Regions from separate parts of the Homo sapiens genome. Here region 1 is linked to region 2. Evidence: fine-mapped expression QTL. A gene starts in region 2. The other region holds a variant in brackets. All regions are shown on one strand. Distances are from middle to middle.

The links.
Region 1: its variant is fine-mapped to the expression of ZNF677 in activated CD8 T cells (Schmiedel 2018, PIP 0.95).

What each region holds. Positions count from the first base shown.
Region 1 is chr19:53,462,870-53,465,778 of GRCh38, reverse strand. It overlaps the pseudogene VN1R102P. Among named protein-coding and RNA genes, the nearest start is that of ZNF813, 3.4 kb to the left of the region's middle. The variant C/T (reference allele first, on the strand shown) is at 1,689.
Region 2 is chr19:53,253,790-53,256,698 of GRCh38, reverse strand. It overlaps ZNF677 (zinc finger protein 677), which reads left to right and starts at 1,826. Exons shown (of 5, transcript NM_182609.4): 1 at 1,826-1,865.

The sequences.
Region 1 (2,909 bases), 210 kb before region 2:
CTTGCCTCAGCCTCCCAAGTAGCTGGGATTACAGGTGCATGCCACCATTGTTTTTTTTTGTTTGAGACAGAGTCTCGCTCTGTTGCCTAAGCTGGAGAGCAATGACACGATCTCAGCTGCTTACTGCAACCTCTGCCTCCCGGGTTCAAGCGATTCTCCTGGCTCAGGCTCTCGAGTAGCTAGGAGCCCAGCTAACTTTTGTATTTTTAGTAGAGATGGGGTTTCACCATGTAGGGCAGGCTGGTCTCAAACTCCTGACCTTGTGATCCACCCGCCCAAGCCTTCCAATTTTCTGGGATTACAGGTGTGAGCCACCACGCCTGGCCTTTTGTTTTGTATTTTTAGTAGAGAGGTGGTTTCACCATGTTGGCCATGCTAGTTTCAAACTCTTGACCTCAAGTGATCTGTCCACCTCGACCTCCCAAAGTGGTGAGATTACAGGTGTGGGCCACCACACGTGGCAAGGAAAACTCGTAGAAGTTACGCCTGCATTCCACTGGACTCAAGCTGAATGAGCACATTTCTCTCAAGGTGTAGCAGGACGAGCCACAGACAAAAGCCCTCACACACAGGGTTAAAGAAGGAAGTTGCTTTATTTGGCCGGGAGCATCGGCTGACTGGCATCTCAAGAACCGAGCTCCCCCAAGAAGGAGTTCCTGGTCCTTTTAAGGGCTTACAACTGTAAGGGGTTCCACGTGAAAGGGTCATGATAGATTGAGAGCACATGTGGTTAGAGTTGGGGGTTAATATTTTAACCTCAGGCCTGGTCATCAGTGGCACCAGCTGGTCTTGCCACTGACTTCATTCCTGTTGTTTTTCAGCTTTTACTTCAGAGACAGGAGACAGTAAGAGAAATGGCCTCTCTCTTCAAAGGCTCATAATTATTTAAAGGTCATAGCTTTAAATTGGAATTATTTGATGTATGAATTATTTAATTTCCTACTGAGATACAGGTACTGTCTCCCTTGTATTTTGCCTTTCAAAGAGAGCTCCCAAGTCCTTCAGAAATACATCCCTGGGTCATCAAGCTGAAAAAAGGTTTAGTTAGTTTCTAAAAAATACCACTTCAGACCAGGTGTGGTGGTTCACACCTGTAATCCCAGCACTTTCAGAGGCCAAGATGGCGAATCACTTGAGGTCAGGAGTTCGAAACCGGGCTTGTACCCGGAAGTTGAAGGCTGCGGTGAACTGGGATCGTGCAATTGCACTCTAGCCTAAGCAACAAAAGCAAAACTCCATCTAAAAAACAAACAACAAAAACAAAACAACAAAAAACCTCAGAAGACAGACAAAATCCATTTACAAATTTTCTAAATAAGTCTCCTAAGAAAAGAGACGAAAGGAAAGTAAATCTCTTTATTTTCACAGGAGGAATTACACCTCTCATTTATTTGCTTGTTTGTTTGAGACAGGGTCTAGCTCTGACACCCAGGCTAGAGTGTGGTGGTGAGATCAGGGCTCACTGCAGCCTCCAACTCCCTGGCTCAAGCGATCCTCCCACCTCAGCGCTCCAGCAGCTGGGACCACAGGCGCGCACCACCACACTTGGCTGATTTTTTTATATTTTTATTAGAGACGACGTCTCATCATGTTGCCCAGGCTGATCTCAAACTCCTGGGCTCAAGCGATCCTCTCACTTCGGCCACTCAAAGTGCTGGGATTACAAGTGTGAACCACCGCTCCGGGCC[C/T]TGACTTTATTTCCATGAAATATGAAATTGTCCTTCACCTCCTGTGTATAATAGGCAGTTCTGCTTGTCACCCTTCAGTTTCCATTATCCACTCAAACAACCCAACCCAGGACCTTGCTTAGTTTAATAAGCCGTTCTAATTGTCTGTGCCCGCTGCAACCAGCGCCCCACTCCACCCCTTTACCGAGGTCCCTGACCCTCTCCACCGCCCTGCCCCAGACTGAGGGGAGCTTGCCCCGCCTGCAGGACGCGCGACTCTACCTTCTCCAAAAAAGCTCTTTGCATTGAAACTATTTTCAACTTAAGAGGAAAAACGATTCAACGTTCAGTACAGGTGGCCCACTACAATATGTTGTTTTACCTTCGATTGTTCGAAATAGTAACTTCAACGGGCAGGAAGCATCCCTGTGATATTAGGGGTAATATCATGGCACATCAGAAACAATCCACCAATCAGAACCCGGAGGACCCAGTCCTGGAGGGCAAGAGGATGAGAGCAGGCGACATCCACGGCCCAGCTGAGAAAAGAATCCGGACCCGCCCCCTCCAGGCCCCGCCCTTCAGAACAAAAAACCCCTTCCAGACCCCACCCCCAAGATGACGCTAACCCTCGGGTCCCGCCTTTTCCTGCTGTCCAGCCCGGCCCCCAGGCAGCCTCCTCCCTCTTGCCCCGCCCACTCCCATTCCAGGCCCCACCCCCACCCTCTAACCAGGCCCGGTTTCCAAAGCTGCCTCCACCCTCTCTCCCCGACCCAGCACCTGTTCTGGCCCGGCCCCCTCGGCGACCTTTACCCCTCCCGTTCCGTCCCCGCTCTCTGTCCAGAACCCGCCCAGAAGGAATCTGGGTGCTTCGGGATGTTGAAATCCCCACGCGAGTTTGTGCAGTTGTCAGGGAGTCCCGGCTTCCCCATGGGAAGCTCGCAGGCCCAGTGGCTCTGCAGCTTTTGTATCGTTTTAGACCGTGTCCTCCGCCTTTCAATACCCTATTGCCCTTTCCAATAATCCCAGTTGGCGGCTGCTGAGCGCCTCACCCTTCATCCACCCATGTTTCCCAGCTGTCAGCCCCTTTGTTCTCGTGAGCGCTGACTCCACAGTGTGGATCTTTGCTTGGCATGCTGGATGAGGACTACCAAATTCCTGCTTTTGTGAGAATTGGATTAATTGTCTGTTTTTGTATAACGTTCAGTCGTTTTGTTGCCTAAAATGGTGTCACAGTCCACA
Region 2 (2,909 bases):
ATTATTTTAAAACAACTAACTGAAACTTGAATTAATATTTGATTTGGGAAACCTATGAAAATATAATAATTCTGCAAAATGGAATTTGAAAGTATGGAATCTTGTGCATTTAATACATTGAAAAGAGAAAGAGGCTGGGCGCTGTGGCTCACACCTGTAATCCCAGCACTTTGGGAGGCCAAGATGGGTGGGTCACAAGGTCAAAAGATCGAGACATCGTAGCTAATACGGTGAAACCCCGTCTGTACGGGTGAGACTCCGTCTCAAAAAAAAAAAATTTAAATACATATATGTATTTTTATATGTAAAATAAATAGAATTTTTATATGTGTATGTTTATATGTAAATAACATATATGTATTTTTATGCTAAAATGCACTCTCATTTTTTTTTCACCCTTCACCTGTTATCAGATGTAATTCCCAGTTACGAAAACAGAGACCCAAAGAGACAGTGGATAGACCTTGGTTTACTCAGATACCCCCATATGGGCTCATCTTCTCTTGGGGAGCCTCCAGTCAATAAGTTTCCTCTCTGGGCCCAAGAGAAATCAATTCAGTTGGCCAGGAGAATTGCCAAGCACATATTATGTTAAAAATACTCTTCCAAATAACTGAGAATAAAGACTTTACAGACTAAAGGCCAGGAGCGGTGGCTCACGCCTATAACCCCAGCACTTCATGAGGCCCAGGTGGGCGGATCACATGAGCTCAGGGGTCCCAGACCAACCTGGCTAACGTGGTGAAACCCCGTCTCTACTAAAAATGCAAAAATTAGCCAGGCATGGTGGCACACGCCTGTAGTCCCAGGTACTCGGGAGGCTGAGGCAGGAAAATCGCTTGACCCAGGAGGCGTAGGTTGCCGTGAGCCGAGATCGCGCCATTACAATCCAGCCTGGGAAACAGAGACTCCATCTCAAAATAATAATAAAAATAATAATAACGATAGTATATTAGTAATTAATAACTTAGACAAAACACAACATACCAACTCCAATAAATCCAGCACTTGGATTTGTAATTTATCTCAAGAAATGTGCATTAGGATAATAAAGGAAAATAAATTTAGATCGATACAAGCAGAACTTTGCGTTCTTTTAAAGCCAAGCCTCAGCCTTCCACCCCCCACCGCCCAGGGTCTGACCCCATAAATTCTCTGGAACTCAGCCCATGGTGCATCTCTGCCTCCTGGGTGACTGGGGAGCGGAAATAAAAATTACGTTCCAGTGAAAGTCAATATAAAATTGTACACTCCGCACAGGCACAAAAATGCATCTCATTCCAGTTTCCATCACCTACGCAGACAACTCCAGCTTTCGCTTAATTAAATACAAATTTTAATCGTCCGGATTTCAGAAGTTCCTGGATCCAAGAGCTTCCTTATACCGTCGCCCTCTCCCATCCACCAGGTCCCAGCGCTCCTCCCGCCTCGTCGCAGGACGCGCCTCCATCGCTCGCAGAAACGTTTTCAAGCAAACCTTTCCCATCTTAAGCTCCGATTCCAATATAAGGGGCCCACAGGTCTCTAATTTTTTACTTAGCTAGGCTCCAAAGGACACCATAGAGATTCAAGGGAATCCAAAAGTGAAGAATCGAGTACTGCTGGGCGACAAACAGGCCTAAAAAAGTCGCTGGGACGCGCCGAGGAGAGGTCCGGCAGTCCGACCCCTAGGCCCCGCCCATCCCGCCATTGTCCCCGCCCATCCCGCCATTGTCCCCGCCCATCCCCGCCATTTGCCCGCCCATCCCCACAGTTGTCCGCGCCCTGCCCCTGCCCTTGCCCCTTGCGCCGCCCCAGTGCACTCGCGTACGCGCAGGTTCCTGCCGACCCGGAAGCGGATCTCGCGGGGCTACTGGCGCTCTCGGGTGAGTCTCCGTCTTTCGGGTTCAAGCCTGCGCCTCGCGGGCCACAGGTTCCCACGCTCCGCTGTCGGGTTTTGGGGTCGCCCTGTAGGTTAAAACCCCGAACCTGCTCATTCCTCTCGCGGCGTGGCCCTAAGACGTTCCCAGTCCCGTCGCTCCGAGAGGGTCTAGAGATCTGCGTCCATTTCGGATTAAAATCGTTCTGAAGTGGGTACTGGCCCCGACCTTTTTGCTTTAGGTCAGTGTGGACACCGACCGCCCACCGCGTCGTTTCTCTGCTTAAAACTCTTCTCTGACTCCCTCTTCCCTCCCCCTGGTAAAGCCCTCACTCGGGGTGGATACACACCCTTCGCCCTTCTCCAGGGAGAACAGAGGGGAAGCAGAAATGGAGGATAAAGAGGGAGAAATGCGCGAAATTAGAGAGCCATCAGAAACAATAGCAGGGACTGAAAAAAAGGATGCTACCAGGATGGGGCCAAACACTCTGTCAGAGAAGGAGAGGAAGGGAAGCCAAATGAGCAGAAAGGGACAGGAAAACGCCGAAATGGGAAAAAGAAAAGGAAAGAAACAGAAGGTGGAAGAGAAACATTTATAGAGAGGGGGAAAAAAATCACATAATGGTGGAGAAAGGGGGGGGCACCCAAATCCATGTGAGTGTGGATTGATTTAATATGGAACATTAAGTTGTGAAGTACTGATGTATGGCTCTATAATTAATTTAAAATTTGCTTCATTGTTTGTGCAGAAGAGCATGAAAATTGCAAAACTACGGTGTGAGGCTTCTGCGTTTTCTAATTATTACATCAGAAGCAACCCTTATTCAGCCAGAGGGTTAACTGACTTAGCTCAGTTAATTCCAGCTCACCCTCTTCCCTTTCTCTGATCTTGAGGAGAGTCAAGAAATGGGAAGAAACTGTGACACCGTATGCTGCTTTTGCAAACAGACATTAACAATATTATTCCCTCCTTTTTTGTGTGTGGCTTGTGTCATTTTCTAAATTTGACGTGTATTCAACTTGTCTTAAATGTAATTCCATAATTTATTGG